Homo sapiens: one gene and its partners. The protein of the gene in region 1 purifies or fractionates together with the protein of each later gene. This does not show direct contact. Each region holds a gene or a part of one and is shown on either strand. Other genes may lie near its edges.

Region 1 (3,570 bases):
AAAATAATTGTGGGATTAAGATCTTGTGTATATTGTTCACGCAATAAGGTGGGTGGTGTAAATATGTTTTCGAATGAATAAAGCTTTTCTTAAAATTTGTATAAGGTGTTACTGATGATTTTTTAATGACCAAATTACATTTTGGTCTGTTTTCAAATGTTCGGATCCAATCATTCTTTTTTTGTTGCCTTTTCTCCTTTCTCCTCTGCTGTAATCCTCATTCCCAATGTTTAATAAGTAGATTTCCTAAAGTAGATTTTGAATAATTTTTATTTCACTCTTTTGCAGCTCCAGCCAAACAGTGCCTCTGGAAGTGGGGCTCTGGAGCATGATCCTTCCTCTATTTATTTACGCATACCTGCTGGAGAAGCAGTACCTGGTCCCCTCCCTCTCGGAGTCTCAGTCATTGATGCTTCTGTGGCCCTTTTTGGTGTAGTGTTTCCTCATGTTTCTTATAAACACCGGTTAGTATAAAGTCAATCAGGTAATTTTTGTTAAATATATATTATGTTAAACGAAAAGTAGATTTTCTCATCCCAGTTAACTCTGCAATAAAGTGAGTTATTATAATACTTAAAACAGTACTCTTACAGATTTACTAATGTAAGTGACAGATACATGATAAAAAAATTGCATGCAAATTGCACATAATTTGAGACTTTATGTAAGATTTGACCCTGTGTACTAGCATCTGATATCTGTTGTATTGTGGACTGTATTTTATAACAAAATTTTCATTATATATGCTAGAATGACAACTGTTGGCAAAAAAAAAAATGCATTATAATAGTTTGTTTGATAGTTCATACATAGGTTTTGACTATATCTTAAATTAAGGACATCAGTTTGCTAAGCCTGTTGACTTTGTTGTTGAGGAAGTAAATGGATGAAAATTCCAATCACTAATAACGTTTGTGAGATGGTTCAAGTCTAGAACTTGGAAACTAACATAATTGGTTCTTTTTGTAATAGAAGCATTTTGGTTTGGTATATTCTGTATCCACAGACACTATTCCTAGCTTTAGTAGGCAGTTTGTATATTGTGATTTTCCCAAAAGGAAAACAGAAATGAATTAATACAAGACCATCACAGATAACTTAAAAGCTTTACAAAATTAAAATGCCTTAAAAGTATTGTTGGGTCTGGTGTGGTGGCTTATGTCTGCAATCCCAGCGCTTTGGGAGGCTAAGGCAAGAGAATTGCTTGAGGCAAGGAGTTTCAGACCAGCCTGGGAAACATAGTGAGACACTCATCTCTACAAAAATTACAAAATAAAAAATGTCTTTAATATGTAGGTTGCTTGATTAATTGCTTTTTAATTTGAGGAGAAAAAAGTTTAAATATGAAACTTTACCCAAATATCTTTAAGAACATTTGGTTGCCACATAAATGTTAAATGATGTTAAAGGTGGAAGAATCTTATAAAGCATCTATTTCAACATTTTGGTTTTAAATCTTAAGGACATCCATATCTAAGAGTTTGGTTTACCCAAGGTTATACAACTAGTTATGAAAGCTATAACTGAAATCCAGGATTATCTCAATTCTGTATGATCACTTTTACAGAATAAGATGAAGTATAAATAAATAAATTCTATTAAAAATATAAACATATAATAAATAACATAAATATTCAACAGTAGGAGGATAAGTGAATAAATAATAGAAAGTCCATTTTTGTAGAGACAGTGTTTTGATAGAAGATGCTCATGATACAATGTTAAATTAAAAAGGTAAAAAGCAAGAAGTGATCCTACTTTGGTTTTCAACCAGCAGGCTGTGCGGCTTAATATATTTACTGCTGTTCTTAGTGCACAAAAGGTACTTACTTACTTTTAAGAATTTTTTAAAGTACATCAAAATGTGCATGTATACACGTACATCTGAATCTGTATCTTCATATGAGTTTTGAATAATGCTTTGACCTGAGACCTGAGACCTGTAGACTAGTATAAATTGAGCTTTAAATCCTTACAGCGACCTCAGGGAGATTTTATTACCAACTTGAGGTCATAATTGTCTTAGTACTAAATCCAACTTCCTTGGATTCCTTTGTTTCACATCATTTCTTTTTAGAAGAATGCTCTCTCACTCTCTTTTTATCAAAATCTTCTGAAATGGGCCGGGCGTTGTGGCTCACACCTGTTATCCCAGCACTTCGGGAGGCAAAGGTGGGCAGATCACCTGAGGTCAGGAGTTTGAGACCAGCCTGGCCAACATGGTAAAATCCTTCTCTACTAAAAATACAAAATTAGCTGGGTGTAGTGGCGAACACCTGTAGTCCCAGCTACTCGGGAGGCTGAGGCAGGAGAATCATATGAACCCAGGAGGCAGAGGTTGCAGGGAGGCAAGATTGCACCATTGCACTCCAGCCTGGGCAACAAGAGCGAAACTCAGTCTCAAAAAAAAAAAAAAAAAAAAATGCAGAGCACAGTGGCTCACGCCTGTAATCCCAGCACTTTGGGAGGCCGAGGTGGGCAGATCACCTGAGGTCGGGAGTTCGAGACCAGCCTGACCAACATGGAGAAACCCAGTCTCTACTAAAAATACAAAATTAGCCAGGCGTGGTGGCGCATGCTACTCGGGAGGCTGAGGCAGGAGAATCACTTGAACCTGGGAGGTGGAGATTGTGGTGAGCCGAGATCGCGCCATTGCACTCCAGCCTGGGCAACAAGAGCGAAACTCCATCTCAAAAAAAAAAAAAAAAAAACAGAGAAATCATCTAAGATGGCCATGGATTTTTTTTTTTTAATAAACTGATTCTTTTTTATTAATATAAAAAACAATTCACTTCTGGTTTTTTACATTTAAAAAAATTAGCCAAAGCTAAATCTTTTTTGAACTTTCCCAAAAGCTTCTGAGGCTAGGACATGAGGTACTATTCTAAGAGTATTTTTAAAATAGGAAAAAGAATTATACTACATTTAAAATTTTCTAACTTAAAAATCTTCCACGGAGATACATAATTAATGATTGTTATCTTTGCAAGAAACCTTGAGCGTCTACTAGATGCCAGGCGCTTTGTTGGACAGTGCTGTTAATGTTGAAGACCACTGCAATTGTGACCTTATTTTGTTAATTGAAACTCTTTTCTTGTTCCATTTAATAACCGCATGTCCATATAATATTTTGGGAGAAGGAGATCTGGTTTGGACTAGCTGTGGGAATGAAATAGAAAAGAGATAGCATGGGGAATTATTTGCTAAACAATTAACTTGTACTCTTCTTATCCGTTTTTGAGCCATATTGGAATAAAATTTGTCACTAATGTGATTTTTTTTTCTTATTGTTATAGATTACAAATGTTGGATCACTTTGCTGAATGTGTTAAACAAGCTAAAGGTGTCCGCCAGCAGGCTGTGCAGCTTAACATATTTACTGCTGTTCTTAGTGCACTAAAGGTATTTACTTTTAATACATACTATTCTGAAATAAGTTTTTAATTAATGCATTTAATAAGCCAGACATAGCAAGATTATTATAATGTTTATATGTAAATCACTTGGTAACTGTGCCTTTACGTTAGCTTAGTTAAATTACTTGAAACTTTATGTTAGGCTCAGTGTAGT
Region 2 (3,570 bases), on another chromosome or scaffold:
GCCAAAAAAGCTGAGAATATTTACCATCTGGCTCTTCACACAAAAAAAATCTGCCGACCTCTGTTTTAAAATGTAAAAACATAAAATTTCTTGGAGAAAAATCTTTGTGGCATTGGGCTGGGGAAAGATTTCTCAGACACAACACCAAAAGCCCACTTCGTTAAAAAAAAAAAAAAATGGATAAACTGGATATCATCAAAATTTGAAACTTTTGCTCTGTGAAAGATACTGCTAGGAGAATTAAAATCCACCAACTGGAGTAAACATTTGCAAAAGGGACTTGTAGTCAGAACACTTTTTTTTTTTTTTGAGTCAAAGTCTCACTCCACTGCCCAGGCTGAAGTGCAATGCCATAATCATAGCTCACTGCAGCCACAAACTCTTGGGTTCAAGCAATCCTCCTGCCTCAGCCTTCTGGCTAATTTTTTATTTTTTGTCGAGATAGGGTCTCACTATGTTGCCCACGCTGGTCTTGAATTCCTGGTGTCAAGTGATCCTCCCATCTTGGCCTCTCAAAGTATTAGAATTATAGGCGTAAGCCACCTCACCCAACCCAGAACCCTTTTTTTTTTTTTTTTGAAATGGAGTCTTGCTCTGTCACCCAGGCTGGAGTGCAGTGGCATGATCTCCGCTCACTGCAAGCTCCACCTCCCGGGTTCATGCCATTCTCCTGCCTCAGCCTCCCAAGTAGCTGGGACTACAGGCGCCCGCCACCATGCCCAGCTAATTTTTTGTATTTTTAGTAGAGACGGGGTTTCACCGTGTTAGCCAGGATGGTCTCCATCTCCTGACCTCGTGATCTGCCCATCTGCCCACCTCGGCCTCCCAAAGTGCTGGGATTACAGGCGTGAGCCACCACGCCTGGCCCAGAACACTTTTTTTTAAGCTCTCAAAACAGAAGCAGGCTAGTGTGCTGGCTCATGCCTGGAATTCCAGCACTTTGGGAGGCCGAGGTGGGTGGATCACCTGAGGTCAGGAGTTTGAGACCAGTCCGGCCAACATGGTGAAACCCCATCTCTACAAAAATACAACAAAAAAAAAATTAGCAAGGCGTGGTGGTGGGCATCTGTAATCTCAGTTACTGGGGAGGCTGAGGCAGGAGAATCGCTTGAACCTGGGAGGCAGAGGTTGCAATGAGCCGAGATGGCGCCACTGTACTCCAAACTGGGCGATAGGGCCAGACTCCATCTCCAAAAACCAAAAACAACATAATGAGCAAACAACCTGGTTTCAAAAATGGCAAAAGATTTGAACAGATACTATACCAAAGAATATATATGGATGGCAGACAGGCACATGAAAAGATGCTCAACATCATTAGTCAAATTAAAACCACATCGAGACACCGCTACCCACTTATTAGAATGGCTAAAGCAAAATAAAACAAAAAACAACCAACAGCAACAAAACAGACAATGTCAAGTGCTGGCAGGGATGTGGAGAAGCCAGAATATTCATGCACTGCTGGTGGGAATGCAAAAATGTGAAATGTGACAGCCACTTTGGAAAACAGATTGGCAGTTTCTTATGGTGAAATATACACTTAGCATGGGATCCAGCAATCCTACTCCTAGTATTAAGGCAATAGAAAGGAAAATCTATATTCACACAAAAATCTGTATATAAATGTGCAGAGCGGCATTATTCATAATCATCCAAAACTACAACAACCCAAATATTCTTCAAGCCATTCATGGATAAACTGGGATACACCATACAACAGAATACCACCTGGCAATAAAAGGTATCACCAATTCATGCTACTTGTGTGAATCTCAAACACATCTTGCCACATCATTTCTGTGCCTTCCTGGAAAAGGCAAAACCATAGGGATGGATCTGTGGTCGCTGGGGTTAGGGAGTGAGGGGAAAAGTCGATTACACAGGGACAGGAGGAGGGAGTATTTCTGTTTGTGGGAGAGCGAACTTTCCAATCTTTATTATGGTGGTAATCAAACAACTTTATCCGTTTGTCAAAACTCAGAGAACTCTACTCGAAAAAATGAATTTTCCTACATGCAAATTTAAAAATAAATTGTCTGAGTGTGGCGACTCATGCCTTTAATCCCAGCGCTTTCAGAGGCCAAGGTGGGAGGACTGCTTAAGCCTGGAGTTCAAGACCAGCCTGGGCAGCACAGAGAGATGCCATCATTACAAAAAAAAAAAAAATTAAAAATTACCCAGGAATGGTGATGCACACCTGTATGCAATCCCAGCTAATCGGGGGGCTCAGCTGGGAGGATCACTAGAGCCTGGGAGGTCAATACTGCAGTTAGCTATGATTGTGCCACTGCAGTCCAGCGTGGGCGACAGAGTGAGATCCTGCCTCAAAAACAACAACAAAACCACAATAAAAATAAATTTTAAAAGGTTTAAAAAGAGAACTTCTGCTTTGCGGCCCTGTTCCTCCTGACACTCTGAGTCAAGGCTGAGCAGCCCCTGCAGGTCAAGTTCTTGGTCAACTAGTAACACGGGAGAAACCAACAACCTGCCCTGCAAAGCAGTTTCATGACGTTTCTGGGCCCCCACCCCACTCTCTGGAGGCCCTTCCCTTGACCTTCTCCAAATCTGCATCATCAATCCTGGGCCAAATCAGCTTCTATCCCACAAGCTCCAACCACAACTGGGCCTTGTCACCACTCAATTATCACTGACTCCCAAGTCGTAGCCACTTCTGTCTCTCGAGGTGCAAGGCCTGCACTGTCCTGCAATCAAGATGCTCACCCCTCTGGTATTCCCTGTCAGTGGTCACCACCCATTGAGGCTCGGCGGTCACACGATGATGCTCACGGTCAGGCATGCCATTAATAAGTGGCAGGGCCAGGCCTCAAGTTGTCATGACAATGCAACTGTCAAACTGGCAAGGCCCTTCACAATCGGACCCAGGTGGTTCTCCAGCCTCAGTCGCCACCCTCCCTTCCCGCTCACTCCAGCTTCTTGCCAATATGCTACAGGCCTCTGCTTTGGCTGTTCCCTCTGCAGGGCACTAGTGTCCTCTCCTTCACTTCCCAGCTCATTTTTTAAAATTAGTATTTTTTTTTAAAGAGATGGGGGTCTCTCTTTGTTGCCCAGGCTGGTCTTGAACTCCCAAGCTCAAGTGATCCTCCTACTTTGGCCTCCCAAAGTGCTGGAATTGCAGGTGTGAGCCACCATGCCTGGCCTCCCAGCTCACTTCTATTTTTACTTATTTTTCTTTTGAGAAAGGGTCTTGCTCTGCTGCCAAACTAGAGTGCAGTGGCATAATCACGGCTCACTGCAGCCTCAAACTGCCTCAGTTTCCCAAGTAGCTGGGACTACTGGTGTGTGCCACCATACCTGGCTGATTTTTAAATTTTTTTAGAGACAGGGGTCTCATTTTGTTGCCCATGCTGGCTTCAAGTCATCCTCCCACCTGGGCCTCCCAAAGTGCTGGGATTATAGGTGAGAGCCACTACACCAGGCTGGCTCATCTTTAAAAAGCTACCTTCCTGGCCTGGCGTGGTGGCTTATGCCTGTAATCCCAGCAATGTGGGAGGCCGAGGTAGGCGGATCACCTGAGGTCAGGAGTTTGAGACCAGCATGGCCAACATA
Region 3 (3,570 bases), 210 kb from region 1:
GAATTTTCTGGATCTTTGCTAATCCAAGCTTTAGATTTAATTTAACCAGGACCACATGCTTGTCATCTCTCTGATGCAAATTTTCAAAATCATTTTAATTTAGATTCTAATGTCTGCCTGGGTTTTTAACAGGCTGTGAACCAGTGAGTGCCTTGTTAATGTAGAATGATTTTTCCCCCCTGGGTGGGTGTTAGTTAGCTCCTCTCTGAAAATGTCTCAGAGAATGGTATTTTAATTGACTTGTAGAGAGCTGCTAAATTTGTTATTATCAGCAATCAGAAAGTCTTTGGTCTACCACACATCTCCCTCCCTACTATCTCTTCATTGTTTGGCTGAAGTTTGCCTCTTGTGAGAAAACAATACAACTCCCCTTCTCCACACACTTTTTTTCCAGCCCAGATTAATAGGTATCCCCTACCCTAATCCCAACTCTATGATCTAATACCTTTTTTAGGAGGAACCACTTCTTTTTAATATTGAAATCTGCTGGTTACTTTATGTTTTCTCAAGTTCAGTTGACTAGAGCTGACCACAGGGTGTCATCAATTCAGATTCCTAAATAACCCTTTCTCTCCACACCCAGTCCTCCAGCTGGTGAGCCCTGGGCCAGATTGTTTGATCTTCAGGTATTTTAAATTTTAGTTACATCAATTAATGTAAATTAATCCAAATGCTAATTTTTGTGGTGCAAGAAGTTTCTTATGTAAATTCAGGGTATGGATAAGCTAATTAAGATATCCATCTTTGGTGGCTCTAAGTGTATTATTTGTTTTTAAATAAAGTGTACAAATATAGATAACATGCTATAGGTGTCTCATGAATTGGAATATTTGTCAGATTTGGGATCTAGCTGTGGCTTTACAGTAATCAGTTAAATTAACATAGTCTGATTTGGGGCTTTTGGGGGAGGAGTTGTAGAGGGGTGCAGAGAAATAAAAGGATATTAGACAAAGTATACATGAGTCCAAAATTAATGAACCAGTCTTAATTACTGATTGTGAGGAAGGAGAAGTTTATAGAGAATTTGGGCCTCTGAAAAGCCAAATTAAAATAGCTTCTAGGATTGGGTCAGTGGTACTTTCAGAGACACATATGTTTAATGAATAGGTTTTATGTTTTTCAAATGTTCAGTTTAAATGGCTTTTAAAATTTATACACATATATAAATACAATGTTTTTATTTTTTGTTTCGCTACTTAACAGACATACACAAGCCTTCCACACTCCCTGCCCCTTCAAATCAACATTATTTTTCAAGGCCTTTGGCCTGCCCAGAACTCACAGTCTTTTTGTTCCAATCAGGATCCACAATACAATATGAAATTTAAAAGGCATCTCTTCTGATATCCTTGAAACTATCCACCATTGTTTGGTGTTCTGTATGCTGGTATACTAATGAGTATTATATCCTTTGGTATGTACACACATTTTCAGTAGTGTTGGAAACACCTCTTTTATCTTTTTAATGAGAACTGAGACATGATTAGCTTGAGTAATTTTGGAGATCTATCTCAGGAGGTCATTAAAACTCCAAAAATTATTCACGGATTGATGAACCTCCTGGGGTCAGCCTAAGATTGCCAGGTAGTATTCTGACCTCCTCTGGGTTTCCCAAGATCACTGATGTTTTGCAGGGCCCCAGCATTGTCCTGGCACATAAAATATTCCCAGAACACCTTGGGAGTCAAGCATACCTTTTAACCTAAACATTATAATCATGGAGCATCCCTCCGCCTGTTACTTCTCAGGATGACCAGAACACTCCAGTTCTCTAAGGAAGCACTGACATACGGCTCTGAAAATTGGAATCCGTTTTCTGAAACACAAATTTTAACTCAGTAAGTTTTGTATATCAAATGATTCAAAACCCACCAAACATAAAATGACTCGCTTCTAAGTATCACTCAAACCCTACAAAACCTAACCCTTTCCTTATTCCTAATTGATATTTCACTAAAGGTAATGGTAGTTTCAGTTAGATTGGAAGTCATTATTTGGGTGAGCAAAGTCTGCAATAACCTACTGATAGGAAGGACCTATTTCATAGAAAAGTATCTTGTCCTTGGTGATTTAGCCATTCACCTTACGTGAAGAGTGGTCCAGATGCCAGCTCCACATTGACTTTTTCTGTGTCCCTCTTTAGGTAATTAACCCAGTGATGTAAAGGAGAGCCCACAGTAAAACATCTGTTAAACAGCACTTGGAGTACTATAGTGTTATTAATTTATGTGCTATAATTTCTTATGCCATCATAAAATCTAGTGTATGTACCAGGTTCCCAATTCATTGCCTCAAACAAAAGATTTTTAAAAATTCTAATAGCATCAAATTAAGGGTAATGGTAGGGAAACCCATCATCCACAATTAAATATGCCCAAACTGAAAACTTTAAGAAAAAAAAGCACATGGAAAGCAACGTTTTACATTAATCGTGAGTTGTAGAAATAAACAGCTTGTGGTTTGTATATGTGCCGAAATGTTAAAGTATGCTGGCATCCAACTACTTCCCTTTGGAAATGGGACCAAGACAATAATTTTTCATGCATAAACAAAATTAACTTAGAGCAAAAGTAATTTTATCAGAAACAGTTTATTTTGGGGGCTGGATAACTTGGGTGAGAGTGTGGGGAAAGAAGTACCTTACCAAAAAGGAGAAGCAACTGACCCTGTGGCCTGAGCCACATTGTCTTCCATTTCAACTTCAATGGGCTGGCAGTATACCACTTCTGACCTCAAAGAATGAATGGTTCCAATTCTGGCTTGTCATTGGTCCTTGTTATCTAAATTAAATATTTTTAGGAAATATATCAAAAGTATCCTAGAGCCCCATGGCAAAGTGTCAGAGGAAATAGTTTTCATTATATTTTAGGAAGCTGTAAAAATATAAGCCCAAGTATTTTGTGTCATCTGCATATGTCAGGATGAAGACCAGGCATGTAAGAAATATCCTAAAGTAGCCAAGTGATAATCTCATGAAAAAATATGAGAATCGTTTTTACAGAGTGAGTTCTCTTTTGAATGGTTTTGACTATGCTTTTAAAAACATTTTTAAAATGTACTTACATCTTTTTCGATAGCCCACGTATTTCAGAATATCCTCTTGATAGAATAATATCACTCAGTGTGATTTTTAGAAAAAGAAAAACTCGGTGGTCTCATATCTTTTGACAGTTGTTTGTGAATAATACCCTCCCCAACAACCTTCCCAGTACTCAACTGCTATGTAAGAATGCTTTCTTATGTGGTAAATGTCTCAGTATTTTGCTGCCTGGTATTTGTTCAGTTTCCTTGTATATCTCAGGGTCAGAAGGAATCAGGCTTTCTCCCAACTCTGAAACATTCAGACTTACTTTCTTTTTGGTCAGCCTTTTAACAAGCAAGACAATAAACTCCTTTTGTCAGAATCGATTTGATTAAAAAAAAAAAAAAAGAATGTGCTCCTTATTTCTCATTGCTGTAGAATACGTAGGAATACACATCTACTAATCACAATTAAAAAATAAGAGAATCTTTAGAAACATCATTGCTTTCTGGAGGTAGAAATTTTGAACTTGAAGGTTGTAGTTCCAG
Region 4 (3,570 bases), on another chromosome or scaffold:
CACCACACCCAGCTGCTTTTTTCTGTTTTTTTTTTTTTTAAGATGGAGTTTCACTCTTGTTGCCCAGAATGGAATGCAATGTTGTGATCTTGGCTCACTGCAACCTCCGCTTCCCGGGTTCAAGCAATTCTCCTGCCTCAGCTGGGATTACAGGCGCATGCCACCACGCCTGGCTAATTTTTTGTATTTTTAGTAAAGACGGGGTTTCACCATGTTGGCCAGGCTGGTCTCGAATTCCTGACCTCAGGTGATCCACCTGCCTCAGCCTCCCAAACTGCTGGGATTACAGGCATGAGCCACTATGCCTGGCCACATTCTGCTTTTGTGGGTGTGCTTTTATTTATTTTTGGCAGAGATGGGGCCTCACTATGTTGCTCAGGCTGGTCTAGAACTCCTGGCCTCAAGTGATCCTCCCGCCTCAGCCTCCCAAAGTGCTGGGATTATAGGCACGAGTCACCACGTCCAGCCCGTTTTTTTTTTTTTTTTTTTTTGAGACAGGGTCTCACGCTGTCGCCCAGGCTGGAGTGCAATGGAGTGATCACAGCTCACTGCAGCCTTGACCTCCCCAGGCTCAGGTGATCCTGCCACCTCAGTGTCCGAGCAGCTGGGACTATAGGCGCACACCACCATGCCCAACTTTTTTTTTTTTTTTTTTTTTTGAGAGGAAGTCTCACTCTTGTCGCCCAGGCTAGAGTGCAATGGCACAATCTCGGCACACTGCAACCTCCACCTCCCAGGTTCAAGCGATTCTCCTGCCCCAGCCTCCTGAGTAGCTGGGATTACAGGCGCCCACCACCATGCCTGGCTAGTTTTTTTTGTATTTTCAGTAGAGATGGAGTTTCACTATGTTGGCCAAGCTGGTCTCGAACTCCTGACCTCAGGTGATCCGCCCGCCTCAGCATCCCAAAGTGCTGGGATTACAGGCGTGAGCCACTGCGCCCGGCCCTGCTTTTTGTTTTTGTAGAGATAGGGTTTTGTCATGTCCCCAGGCTGCCCTGGCCTTAAGTGATGCTCCCACCTCAGCCTCCCAAAGTGCTGGGATTACAGGCGTGAACCACCGCACCCAGCCCATGTGCTTTTAAATAAATAGCCATCCCCAAGGCTTTATACCTTGCCCCCATGATGACAGTTGTATACCTGCGGCTTGGCCTCTCCTCTGGGTTCCAGACCCTCCTGTAAGATACCTTCTCCCTAGTGACCCTCGGACTTCTCAGACTTCCCCTACTTTCAGCCAAGAGAAAGCCTTGCTTTCTACTTCCAAACTGTAGTAACACCCCCAGCCCTGACACCACCCTAATTCAGCTTCCCTATTTCAATAAACAGTGCTACTATCCACCCATTTGTTCCATCAGAAAGCCTAGAAGGGTTGATGGGGCTGGGAGGATAAAAGCAGCCCAGAAATTACCCTGAGTCCATTCATTCTCTCACACCTCTCTTCTCATCTACCAACAAGTCCCAACAGCTCTACCTCCAAAATATCTCCCTAAACCCACCACCAAGTTCTAAACCATTACAATCACTACACCCAGCTCCCAACACTTCATCTCACCCCCACCTGCTGTCCACGTGCCAATGTCCATATGATCATGGCACTCTCCAACTCAATCTCCAGGCCAGGTTTCTCCTACAACTCAGACTGAAGGTCCAACTCCCTACTAACACCTGCAAGGAACGGCTTAATGAGAAAACCAACTTTCCAGCCCAGGCTCCTGCCTCTCTCTCCCTTACCATAAGCACATCAGTCTTATCTAGGTTCCTGGAGGATATCACACCCAAAATTTCCCACTTCAGGGCCTTTGCATGTGCTGTCCTCTCAGCATGGGAGACTCTGTCCCCCAATTTGTCTCAAAGCTAGCTGCCTCTCACATTCCAAAGATTAACTGAAGTGAGTTAGAAAAGTCAAAGGGGAGAGATATATACACCTATTGTGTACCCACAACATTTTAAAGTAAAAAATAAAAACAAAGGGAAGATAAACCAGAAAAAGGGACATCAAAAAGAGGTGAAGAGCCTCTTTCAGTGAACAGTGAACAGTGTCGGCAACTGCAGGGGCAAGGAGAAGCCAAGAGCAGGGCAGAGAGAGGCCATGAGGGAAGGGTGGATGAAAGAACAAGACACAGGAGAAGGGTCTAGAACAAAATCAGTGGGTACAGTGACAAAGAGGGGGCTGCAGTGAAAGGCAGGGACTAAATGGAAGTGACAGACTTGGGGGAGCTGGTGCTGACAGGTCAGGGAATGAGCAGCAAATTGGGAGGAGTCAGTAACAAGAGAGTGGACAAAGCAGGTAGGGAAGCTGCGAGTACACAGAGTGGCAGGTCGGGGGACAGTACGGTGCATGGGGGAAGGTGACAGGCTGAAGGAAGAGATGATGGGGATGGAAGCAACAGGGCAGTGCGGGGTAAGGTGAGGTTAGATGACTGGTGATATCTCAAGCCGTGATGGGGAGCGCGACAGGAAAAGACGAGTAGTGTTGGAAAGGGTTAGGAAATAATGGAAAGGGGAATCAGTGATTGGACAAGAGGGGTGATGACAGCGGGCACTGAAAGTTCTCCCACTGACAGGCAGGAGAGAAGCAGTGGGGAGACACTGACAGGTGGGGTCACTAACAGCAGGGCAGGGTACTAATGGGTCCCTAACAGATAAGGGATGAAGGAGGTAGCATGAAAGGGGACAGGAACTGACAACAGGGGAGAACTGATGGGGAGGATCTGACAGGCACTAACACAGAGGCCGATAGCAAAGAGCGGAAGGGCCACAACAGGCAGGATGAGGGAGACACTTATGAGGGAAACTTACTGACAGTGGGGCTCACTGACAGAGGCACTGGCACTGATGGGGGGCACTGACAGAGAAGATCAATGACAGGTGGGGACATTGCTGACAGAAGGGGTCACAGAGCGCTTGGACTGACAAGGAAGGGCACTGGCAGGGGAGGGATTATGCGGTCAGTGACTGACGGGTACGGGTGGGGGTGCAGGCACTGATGGGAAGTGGGGACATGACAGAAAGAAAATAATTGACTGGGGGGGCACTGGCTGACGGGGGACAGGGATGCGGGACTCTGACTGGGGGACACTGATGGGGAGCAGAGTGGACTGACGGTGGGGGAGCACTGACCAACAGTGGAGGCACTGACCAGTGCGCGGACTGACAGATGCGGAGGCACTGACCGACAGGAGGAGCATGACTTGCAAGGGGCACTGACTGACGGTGGGGGGCACTGATGGGTGGGGTGGGGACTGATGGGTGAGGTGCAATGACTAGCTAGCAGGGGACACTGACTGGTGCAGGAAGCACTGACTGGTGTAGGGTGGGGGAACAGAAGGAGGGCACTGACTGGGGGGGCACTGACTGACTGGGAGGGAACTGACTGGAGGGGGCCCTGACTTGGGAGGAAACTGACTTGGGGGGCACTTACTGGAGGGGAACTGACTGGAGTGGGCACTGACTGGGGGCACTGATTTGGGGGGCACTGACTGGAGGGGGCACTGACGGGGGAACTGATTGCGGGGGGAACTGACTGGGGGGGCACTGACTGAGGGGAACTGACTGGGGGACACTGAAGGGGGC

Evidence for each region.
Region 2: the proteins of HEATR5B (region 1) and ELAVL1 purify together in Homo sapiens (affinity purification with mass spectrometry, with the first as the bait; one study listed by BioGRID). This does not show direct contact.
Region 3: the proteins of HEATR5B (region 1) and STRN purify together in Homo sapiens (affinity purification with mass spectrometry, with the first as the bait; one study listed by BioGRID). This does not show direct contact.
Region 4: the proteins of HEATR5B (region 1) and PPP6R2 purify together in Homo sapiens (affinity purification with mass spectrometry, with the first as the bait; one study listed by BioGRID). This does not show direct contact.

The regions. Positions count from the first base shown.
Region 1 is NC_000002.12:37,053,334-37,056,903, reverse strand, and holds part of HEATR5B (HEAT repeat-containing protein 5B), read left to right. Parts: intron 1-288; coding exon 289-464; intron 465-3,296; coding exon 3,297-3,402; intron 3,403-3,570.
Region 2 is NC_000019.10:7,995,622-7,999,191, forward strand, and holds part of ELAVL1 (ELAV-like protein 1), read right to left. Parts: intron 1-3,570. UniProt on the Homo sapiens protein: RNA-binding protein that binds to the 3'-UTR region of mRNAs and increases their stability.
Region 3 is NC_000002.12:36,841,025-36,844,594, reverse strand, and holds part of STRN (striatin), read left to right. Parts: 3' UTR 1-3,570. UniProt on the Homo sapiens protein: Calmodulin-binding scaffolding protein which is the center of the striatin-interacting phosphatase and kinase (STRIPAK) complexes.
Region 4 is NC_000022.11:50,346,285-50,349,854, reverse strand, and holds part of PPP6R2 (serine/threonine-protein phosphatase 6 regulatory subunit 2), read right to left. Parts: intron 1-3,570. UniProt on the Homo sapiens protein: Regulatory subunit of protein phosphatase 6 (PP6). May function as a scaffolding PP6 subunit. Involved in the PP6-mediated dephosphorylation of NFKBIE opposing its degradation in response to TNF-alpha.